Regions from separate parts of the Homo sapiens genome. Here region 1 is linked to region 2. A link means that fine-mapping ties the variant in region 2 to the expression of a gene that starts in the linked region. Tissue or cell type: whole blood. Region 2 holds a variant in brackets; the other region holds the start of a gene. All regions are shown on one strand. Distances are between the middles of the regions.

Region 1 (5,024 bases), 110 kb after region 2:
ACTGCCTTGGAGTCCTCCAGAAATGTCTGCAGTGTCCCAGTGGGCATCCAGGAGGAAGTCCTGGGAGGACAGATGAGAGCCCGGGGAGGCGTGATTGGGTAAGAAGGAGCAGCTTGTAGGTGACCCATGCCTAGTGCTCACAGGAGAGCTGCCTTAAGCACCGTCTACCAGGCAGCGAGGGTCTGCTGAAAAGAAGCATTCATGGCTGGGGTTTTTCTAGTGTGACTCCCTTCCCAGTGAGAAAGACCTCAGAGAACTTAAAAGGAAGGGCACAGAAGAGTGGCAGAGAGGGTGAATGACAGCGTGGCATGCTCCAGGGCTGGGCAAGAGAGCCAGGAAAACGTAATGTATACTCCGCTTTACAGAGATGTTAATTAATGCCTGCCTTGTCCTAGAAACCAAATTGGTACCTAATGCTAAGTGCAGAAAGTGCAGAGATTTTCTGAACCCAGATGTTTAGCTTATAACCAGCATAATGATACTAGCTTTGCATTAAAATGATGGATCCTGAGGCTGCGAATACATGAGAAAGGAAAGAGGGTAGGGAGGAAAGCAGAGAAAGGAGTGGAGGTCTACAGGGAAGACACAGACATTTCAGGAAGATCCTGTACCCTATCCCTTTGCCTCTTCCAGGTCCCATGAGGGACTGTTTACCTGGGAGGCACCCACTGTTGCTGGAGCTCATTATTTCTTTTGCAAACCATGTGCTGCTGTACGCGTAGGTGGGATCTGCCTGTCCACGCCCTCAAGGGGCATGTGGGGAGAAATGTTCCATTTCTTCCACAGCCCGGAAGACAGAGGTGGACCCCATTGTCACACATGGCGGGGGCGGGGAGCTGACCACATTTAGCCAGACTCTGAGAACGCATGTGTGTATATATATTGGGTGTGTGTGTGCACACGCCCACCATTCTTAAAAAGCAAATAAGGTTTCTTCCCCCTACTGGGGTCTCTCCATTGTGAGAGATTTGCTTTATTCCATCTATGCTTTTCAATCAATCAAAGGGCAGCTCACACAGCACACAGCGGGAATACAATCTCCCTCCCGGGGTGTCTGCGCTTCTCCCCAGCCTAGCCAGAGACCTTTGCAGGAGCTGAAAAAAGTTTGGAAATAGCGGAGTCAGGGTGCTGAAAAAGCCCTTTCATTCAGCCCCTATCTTCAGGATTTACAAAAACAACCCAAATTCTGAGCCTAGCACTGAGGCCTCCTTGTTCAAAAGAATGTTTGCTCCTCTTCCATCATGTTCTGTAAGGCTCCTAACATATTTTTTCCACTGGTGGGTCTGTGGGATACTCTGAACACATGATCTTGGACAGAGGGTACAAGCTTATTCAGTTTTGTGGGAAAATGATATGATCATGTTGCCTAGAAAGCTACCTCAAAGTGACAGCACCAGAAACACAGGAGCTTGTACATATATATTCAATTCCGAATTTGATTTGGATCTCATGTTCTTCTCCCTATGACAACTGAGACCCTAAATTAGTTGCTCTTAGACCCCAAGAAGGGAACTATGGAAAAGCCTCTTAGAACCCCAGCCACTTCCTACCTCCTCCAGAAAAAGTTAAAATGAGCAGCCTGTGAAATTCCAGCCAGAGAGAACAAGAATGAAAATGCTTTCGGGAAATAGGACCTTAAAGCACGGGCGTCTGGGGAGTGATTCTACAATCGGAGCAGGCTTGGGCTCTGGGGGACGCTGGCAGACCCACGAATGCCTTGCCTTCTCCGGTGGGCAGTGCCGCCACGGTCGTGAGGGAGGGGAGCCTCCTCTTTTGGAGGACTATATCCCTCGTGCTTCCCCCTTCTAGTTCTCTTTCTCAGACACACACCACGAAAGGCATGTGACAGGTGTTCGCCAGCCGGAGGCACCGGGGAAGGCAGCCCCATGTGCCCAGGGAGGGTAGGGAGGTGAGAGGGGACCCAAGTCCTGTGTCTCCAAGTCCTGTCTGCTTGCTGCTAAGCAGGCACTGAGGCTGTGAATAAGGTCTTACCTTTTAAGGAGGATCTGACCCCCGTACCTTCCCTAGACAAGCAACATACGCGGCGATGCTTTAAGCCGCTTTCTGCCTGAAATCTCGGCGCATTCCCGGGGAAGCAGTGCCACGCTTCAGAAAGGCGTTTGTGCTGCCTCTTACTGGGGAAACGCAGTGTCTGTTTCATATGCGCCGCCCTACAGAACTGCAGCCCCAACCGCCTATCTGGCCTCCTCCCCGGGCGCTGGGCCACCACTCTCTCCAAATATGCGTCCGAATATCTGTGGGTCTGTCTCCCGTTGAAATCCCAGGGTGTCCAAAGGCCACGGGGCCGCGATGACACTGGGTAGGTCTCCGGAAACCTCTCAGGACTTCTCCCATTTTAAAGCCCAGCTAGGGACGAAAGGGGCTGGGAGCTGAAAAATTGCTCCCTCAACCTCCCCGGGTGGGAGGCAGAGCCGGGAATACACAGAATCCCACCCCGAAAGTCCCGGGAAAGAGAAGTCTGAGTCCAGGAGCGTGAGAGGAGAACACACCCGGGAAATCCCTGCTCCGGCCGCTGCACCTCCGCGGGCGTCCAGGTGGGACGTGGGCAGGTGCGCGAGCGCCGTGTGTGCCGGTGTGGATCTGTGTGTGTGCCTGCGTGTGTGCGTGTGCGTGTGCCGCGGGCTGGCTCCGGGACACTGAGGACTCCCGGGTCGGCCCAGGTCTGTCCGACCTTGCTGCCCTCGCCGCCCGCCCGGCCCCACTCCCCGGCGGGCCGGCTCCTTACCTGGACGCGCCGCGTTTCCCTCCTTCAGCGGGAGCGCCGCATTGACACTGCAGATGGAGCCTATGCCGCTGCCTCTCGCCCTCCTCTGAACGTGTGCGTGTGCGCGCGTGTGGCTGCCTCCTCCAGCCCCAGCCCCGAACGCAAATACTCCACCGAGGCACAGGGAAGCCGGGAGCAGCCGAGGAACGCGGAGGGCGCCGAATCAGAGCCTGCGGGGCTTGACAGCTTCTCTTGCGGCGTCCAAGGTGGGCGTAATGTCCAACAAAAAGGTCGGAAAATGGGGATCGATTCCGAACACCCCTTTCCTCCACCCAGCCCCGGAGCCCGAGCAGCGGCGGCGGCTCTCGGGGGCTGCGGTGGCGACGCCGGGCTGCCCCCCTTCGTCCCCACCCCCGCGGGCTGAATGTCCTTGATGCCAAGCGGGCACAGCGGCGTCACTCCGCGCCGCCCATGCTCGCCCGGTCGGGCCGCTGCCCGGGCGCGGCGAGTGCGCGGGGGACCCGCCGGGGAGCGCTCTCGGCGCCTCTGCGCGCCTCTCTGGGTAGCGGCGGCCGCCCCCCGGCAGCCCGCGGCCGGCCGCGCCGCGGCAGCCCCCACCCTTGCCGAGACACTCGCCGGGCAGTGCCCTGGGGCCGGGGCTGGGGGGCCGCGGGAGCCGCCGGCTGCTCCCCGGGGAGGCGCGGGGCTGCGGCGGTGGTGGCTGCGGCGGCTGGCGCTGCGGCGGCGGAGAGCTCGGCCGCGGGCCGAGCCGGGCCTCCCGGGCGCGCCCCCGGCCCCCCGGGCGGGCTGCTCGCAAAGTTTGCAGGGGGCAGGGAGCGGGGCCGCCGCTGGCTCGGCCGCCGCCGGAGCTCCCGGGCTGCCTGCTGCCGCCGCGGCTCGCTGCTGCTGTGCATTGAAGCCCGGCCAAGCGCTGCAAAAACTCCAGCTGCCTGGCGCTCTCTGGGTCCTCCTCTCCTCCCTCCCGCCCTCCCTGCTTCCCTTCCTCCCTCCCTCGCCTCGCCTCCTCTCCTCCCTGCCGCCCGCCGCCCGCCGCCGCTCCCTCTCTGGCTCGCTCTCGCTGGCTCGGAGCTCGCGGCTGACATCTAGAGCGAGGGAGAGCGGCCGGCAGAGGGGGCAGGGGGCGCCTCCCTACATGCTCCCACCCGCCGCCGCCCGGCTTGCCGGCTCTCCTCCGCACCAACGTTTGCCGACACCCCCCTGGGTCCCCTCGGCCCGCACGGAGCTACCCTGGCGGTGGCGATGTGGGGCGGAGAGAGGGGCATACATGGGTGACCGGAGCGCACGGCGCGCGCTCAGAGGGAGGCGCTCAGCCGCCTCGGAATTTGCAGCTCTGGGCGCTGGCCGTCGGAGGGACCCTCAGGTGCTCAGAGCTGACACAAGCGCACACTGACTCTGAGGCATACACCCATTGCTAGTCAGAACCCCTCCCAACACCCCACCAAGTCACCCCCACATGGCACCCAAGGAGGCCGAGGACACTGAGGGCACAAGGCCCGCACGAGAGAACATGAGTGGCCAGTGCCCCAGAGCTGGCTTGGTAACCTGACTTTTCCATTCATGTTTATACTGAGCGGCTCTCCTGGCTCCTCTCTTCTCTGAAACCCTAGATCCTAGACTACATCCAGAACAGACCATGCCAACATCAGGGTGGTTTCTGAAGCCCAAAGAAAGAAATCACCATGTAGCTCTGGTTTAGGCAGTGAAGATGGGGAGTGGGTGGCACTACCTCCCAAACCTCTGCCTAGATCCCCCTAGGAATGGGCCCACCCACCAAGAGAAACCGAAGGGATTCCCACACCTGTTAACTCAACTCTGTGCATGCCACCCTCATCCTCATACCCGCTCCCACCATAGTCTGAGGGAAGTGGCACCTTCAGCAGAGTCCAGTAAGCATTCCCTGGGATAGGCAACCAGCAAGGACGACCCTCTAAAGGAGCCCATGGCTCTTGGCCTCCTCTCTCCTGTCCCTTCTTTAGTTTTCACTGTCCTCACACCCAGAAACTCCCGCCCATTACTGTCCCTCCCATCGAAACATCTCAGAGCCTCCTTATTAGGTGGACATGACTGATAATGGCTTAAATGCCTATACCTCCCTATAGGGGTTATATTCTCACAGAAATCGAAGTTGTGTGAATTGGGGAGCCTTTGAAAGGAGCTGTGAGATGACAGCTTAAACAAGCCCCAAGGTGAGCGGCACATATAGGTCAGGCTTGGCCCACCCAGAGAGGACCCTGCTGAAACTTTGCTCTCACCAATGAGAAGATGAACCAAGCCAGAA
Region 2 (5,024 bases):
CATCTACGTAGACCTAGGTAAACCGTGTGCCTTTACAGAGCACGACCGAACCAGAGCCCGCGCTCTTCCTCCTGCCACCCAGCCGTGGAGCATTTGGACCCTTTGGGCTGCTGTCTGATCTAAGACGGCAGCTCTGAGGATCAATTCCCCTGAGCAGACAGTTTTCTGAACCAGAACCCCTAATTTAAAAATTGCCTGAAGAAGCAGAAAGTAAGAACTGGAGGAACAGTAATAGTTATCACTGCTAATTTTAACACCAACAAGATCTTACATTCGGGGAAACGATCTCCCACCCCTTTTCTTATTTGAAATATAGCCTTCTTGATCATAATCTGTCATTCAAGAGGAGCTGGATGCAAGTGGATTGGCAGTAGGAGAGGAACCCCAGGGAAAGACCAAAGAGCAATGAGCAGGCTACAGTCAATTTGATTTTGTGGATTCTTCCAGGGCCAGCACTTGCGGAGGTTAGAGATGCCGGAAGGGGTCCAGGTCTTGGGTTTGTGTGTGGTTTATTTCCCTCGGGCATTTTCAATTCATATTCCTGCTCCCCTAGATATTCAGGCCCATGGGCAGCATTTTAGCAAATCTGGGCTTGTTTCAACACCAGCCCAAGCAGGCACAGACCAGAAGAGAAATCTGTTGGTGGTGGGGATGCTGGGGGCAGCGAGCCTGATCTGAAGTGGGGAGGCTCCCTCGATCCTAATATACAATATCCCAAAACAAAGTGAAAATAAAGTTTAAATTACCTTCCGGTTTCGATGATCTAAATCACACCTCCCTTCCAGAAGTGTAGATAATTGGAGTTGACTAAATTGTGAAAATATCTGATTTTTTAAATTCATTGTGTACAAGAGTGCCCCCACCCCGCCCCTTCTCTTCCCCATGCCCCTCCTATAATTAACCTACACATCAGCATATAATACCAGTACCCAATGCAGTCACGATGGCAACCGATAGCAAGAATACTTATGGCTGTGTACAATTCAGATACAACTGTTTAAATTCCATTTGGCTGAGTACTGTGGCTCACTCCGGTAATCCCAGCACTTTGGGAGGCCGAGTTGAGGGGATCGCTTGAGCCCAGGAGTTTGAGACCAGCCTAGGCAATATAATGAGACCCTGCCTCTGCCAAAAGTTTTTTAAAAACTTAGGCAGGCACAGTGGTACACACCTGGAGTCCCAGCTACTTTGGGAGGCTGAGGTGGGAGGATCCCTTGAGCCCGGGAAGTCGAGGCTGCAGTGAGCCATGATGATGCCACTGCCACTGCACTCCAGCCTGGGTGACAGACTGAGACACTGTCTCAAAAAAAGAAAAAAAAAAAAACCTCAAATTGTAATTTCTCTAAATATTTTCAAAAATAGCTGCATGGAAAAAATTAGCTCTGTGCCCACCCTTCTCTCCTGTGGCTCTGTGGGGTCCACTTCTCAAGTGACAGCTTCATAGGCTTCCCAGAGGTTCAGGTGGCAAAGAACCTTGGGTGATGTTTTGCCAGCTGGAAACCAAATCAAGTCAGGACAACTGGAGATCAGGCCACCAGCTGAGAAGTGTGGGACTGGAAAAGTCAAACCTAGCAGGCAATATTTAAATTCAAAATTGAGTATATGTGGTCACAGCCTCTCTAAGCCTCAGTTTCTCCCTGTCTTTCCTTTACTAAGAATGAATCCTACCCTCTGCTAATCCCACACATCACCCACCACAAGGATGATTTTGGTTTTTCAGTAAAACAAAAGCAGAGGGGGGATGGGAGCAGATCCTAAACGTTTCAGAATGGTGTTCACACTATTCTCTCTTAGACTCATGGTACCTCTGCACACAGCCTCTCTTTGTAAGGCTGAACAAACAGAAGCAAGCAACCAAGCAAGCAGAAAGATATTGCAGCCCCAAAAAGTAAAAAATAAAAAAGATGAGGATAATCACAAGAAATATTTTCCTATGAGATAGATTTACCAAAAGGAAAAAAGAAAGAAAATGTCTGGGAAATGTCGTTTTTCAGTAAGATTCAAGAGGACTTTTTTCTGAAAAAAATCAAAGTAAACAGCATCTCAAAAGCAGGGGTCAGCAAACTTTTCCATTAAAAGGCTAGGGAAGAAATATGCTTGGCTTTGAGGCCACATGGTCTCTGTACAACAAGGCTTCCCTAAATAGAAACAATATGTAAATGAGGGAGTGGGACTGAATCTGGCCTCTTCCTCTGATCCAGAGGGAAGGAGCTGCCCTCAGGTAAGGTTGCATGAATGGCTGAAGTTAAAACCTCACTA[T/G]AAGAAGCAGGAAGTATAATGCAAAAAAGAAAGTGACAGACGCACTTGAAAAGCTTTCTCAGAAATAAGATGACAGTGAGGAAAACAAAATAAGATCTGGACCACAAAACCAGACACCCCAGTATGTACATACAAGGAGCCCTCCAAAGAGAAAACATCACAGAGCAGACATCTTGATGAGAATGATAATAATAATAGTGATAATAAAAGCCTTTCCTGCATTGAAAACTGGAGGCTATAGATTAAAAGAACATATTTAAATCCAAGGGAAAAGAAATCAAGTCAACACACATCCATATCCTAATAAATGTTTCTGATGTGTGGAGAAAATTCTATAAACCTTCAGACAAAGTAAATGAAGAGATTACCTACAAAGGAATCAAAATCCAACGGGCCTCAGGCTCCCCTCCTGTATTCATTGCTCTAAGACAGCGGAGTCATTTCAACAACTTTGAGGGAAAGAAAAATACTCAGTCAAGTCTCCATTTACATTTAAGGTTGACATAATAACAGTCTCAGGTATCCAAGGGCTTAAATATTATTCCCTTCATGGGGGAAAAACAAAGTCTTAATGGCAAATGCCGATCTACTAGGGGACAAATCAAAATTAAGAAACCACAGGTGGAAAATTTACAATGTTGCAGATCTATGAGCAATGAAAAGCTATTAAAGTTGTCCAAATACTTAGTATAATTTCAATTATAACATAGTAGAAACGTCAAAAACAGTGTTTGAAAGGGATGAATCCATGTTGAAATTATCATAATGTAAAAATAATACAGGTCTTAAAACCTAGATCATATTAATAAAAATTGGAAGTAGGGGGAGGAGAAGGACTAAAATCATACTGTTTAATTCTTAACTTCGATGCTTTAGGGAATGTGGGTTTAAATGTGCTTTCAAAAACTTAAGGGTAACCACTATTAGGTTAAAATAGGATGAATACTTTCCAAATCACCAAAAGGGAGGAAAGCAGAGAAAGTCCAACCCACATAGCATAATTAACAAGTGATAAAAAGGAAATAGGAAGTAAATGCATCAAAAAGAAAACCAGGAAGCTTAAAGACAAAAAACAGAAAAACAAGGATTGTGCTATGAAATATTAGGCTGCCACTAAAAACCATGTTTGAAGGGTACTTAATCACACAGGGGAATGTTCACAATAAAAAGTAGAGATGAAAACATAATATGTACATATATATACTCTCAACTTTGTCTGTATTTAAGGTTCATAGAGAAAAAGGCATAGGGATATACTCAAGTATCTTCTTTTATTTAAAAAAAAATAATTATTATTATTTTGTACAGACAGGGTCTCACTATGTTGCCCAGGCTGGCCTCTAATTCCTGGCCTCAGGTGATCCTCCCACCTCAACCTCCCAAGTCTTTGGTATTCACAGGCATGAGCCACCACGCCCAGCATTAATAATTTTTTGAAGATGATAGAATTTCAGGTTATTTTTTTTCTTGTTTATTCTTGTTTTATATTTTCCACAAATAACACACATTTCTATAATTTTTTTTTTTTTTTTTTTTTTTTGTGAGGGGGACCGAGTTTTGCTCTTTCCACCCAGGCTGGAGTACAATGGTGCAATCTTGGCTCACTGCAACCTCTGCCTGTCAGGTTCAAGTGATTCTCCTGCCTCAGCCTCCCGAGTAGCTGAGATTACAGGCACACAACACCGTGCCCAGCTAACTTCTATATTTTTAGTAGAAACGGGGTTTCACCATGTTGGCCAGGTTGGTCTCTAACTTCTGACCTCAAGTGATCCACCCCCCTTCAGCCTCTCAAAGTGCTAGGATTACAGGCGTGAGCCATCGCGCCCAGCCTGTAATAATTCTTAAAAACAATCAACATTATAAAAAATAAAAATTGTAGGGTACCATGAAACCAAGCTGATTGTTCTTCCCAGGGGAGGAGGAAGGGCCAGAGAGGATTTGGAAGGTATTATCCAGCACAGGTTAGGTTTGATCAGTCAGTGGATGCTGCTGGGTTGGAAACTGGATTTTCCATCTACCAGTGCACACTCAGCCCTCAGTATTCTTAGAGCACATGAGGAAAAAAAATCACTATTAAGCTTTAATTTCCAGAGCCCTTACTGTGTGCTTTGTGCAATGTACTTTATTCTCACAACAACCCAGAGATGTAAGTATTTTTAGCCCATTTGACAGATGAGGAAATTGATGCCAGAGAGGATAAGAGACTTGCTTAAGGTTACATAGATGGGAAGGCAAGCTGCCAGGGTTAGAAACCAGCCCGTTTGTTGAATCCCTAATAATAATGTGTCCCCTTCCTTCTGGAAGTTAGGCAGAACTTGTGTGGACTTCACTGCTATTATTTTTTAATCTGCTCATTCTTCCCTCTGGCTTACGGGGACACACCATGAGGGCCACTGTCTCTTACTTTCAGCTGGACTATGAATCCACATGCCCCTGATTCTTTCACAAAGATGCTGCAAGCCACCCCTCACAAGGGCTTCCTGAGCAGACATCTTATTCCTTCCAGTCCAGCATCAGTGGATAAAACAGAACTAAATTCATCGCTATTCCACCCACCCCAACTTCCTTCCTTCATAAACTAGCCACAGAGCAGAGGCCCAGGAGCCTGTCCAATACATCTCAGGGTCCCAAGTACTTCTCCCCACACCAGCCTAGGAAACCAGGGCTGGCTGTCAGCAAAATGAATAAAATTCCTATGTTTGCCTAAAAGGCAGGGGAGGGGAGTGGAGAGCTTACCTCTGAATTGCAATGTTACTAGGACACAG

Evidence for each region. PIP is the estimated chance that this variant, and not a neighbour inherited with it, causes the effect.
Region 1: PLXNA4 starts here. The variant in region 2 is fine-mapped to the expression of PLXNA4 in whole blood (TOPMed, PIP above 0.99). The same link has a PIP of 0.9 or more in CD4 T cells.

The regions. Positions count from the first base shown.
Region 1 is chr7:132,573,676-132,578,699 of GRCh38, forward strand. It overlaps PLXNA4 (plexin A4), which reads right to left and starts at 2,795. Exons shown (of 32, transcript NM_020911.2): 1 at 2,747-2,795. RefSeq lists enhancers at 1,279-2,256, 2,257-3,234.
Region 2 is chr7:132,459,062-132,464,085 of GRCh38, forward strand. The region is part of intron 3 of PLXNA4 (plexin A4); the gene reads right to left. Among named protein-coding and RNA genes, the nearest start is that of PLXNA4-AS1, 110 kb to the left of the region's middle. The variant T/G (reference allele first, on the strand shown) is at 2,260.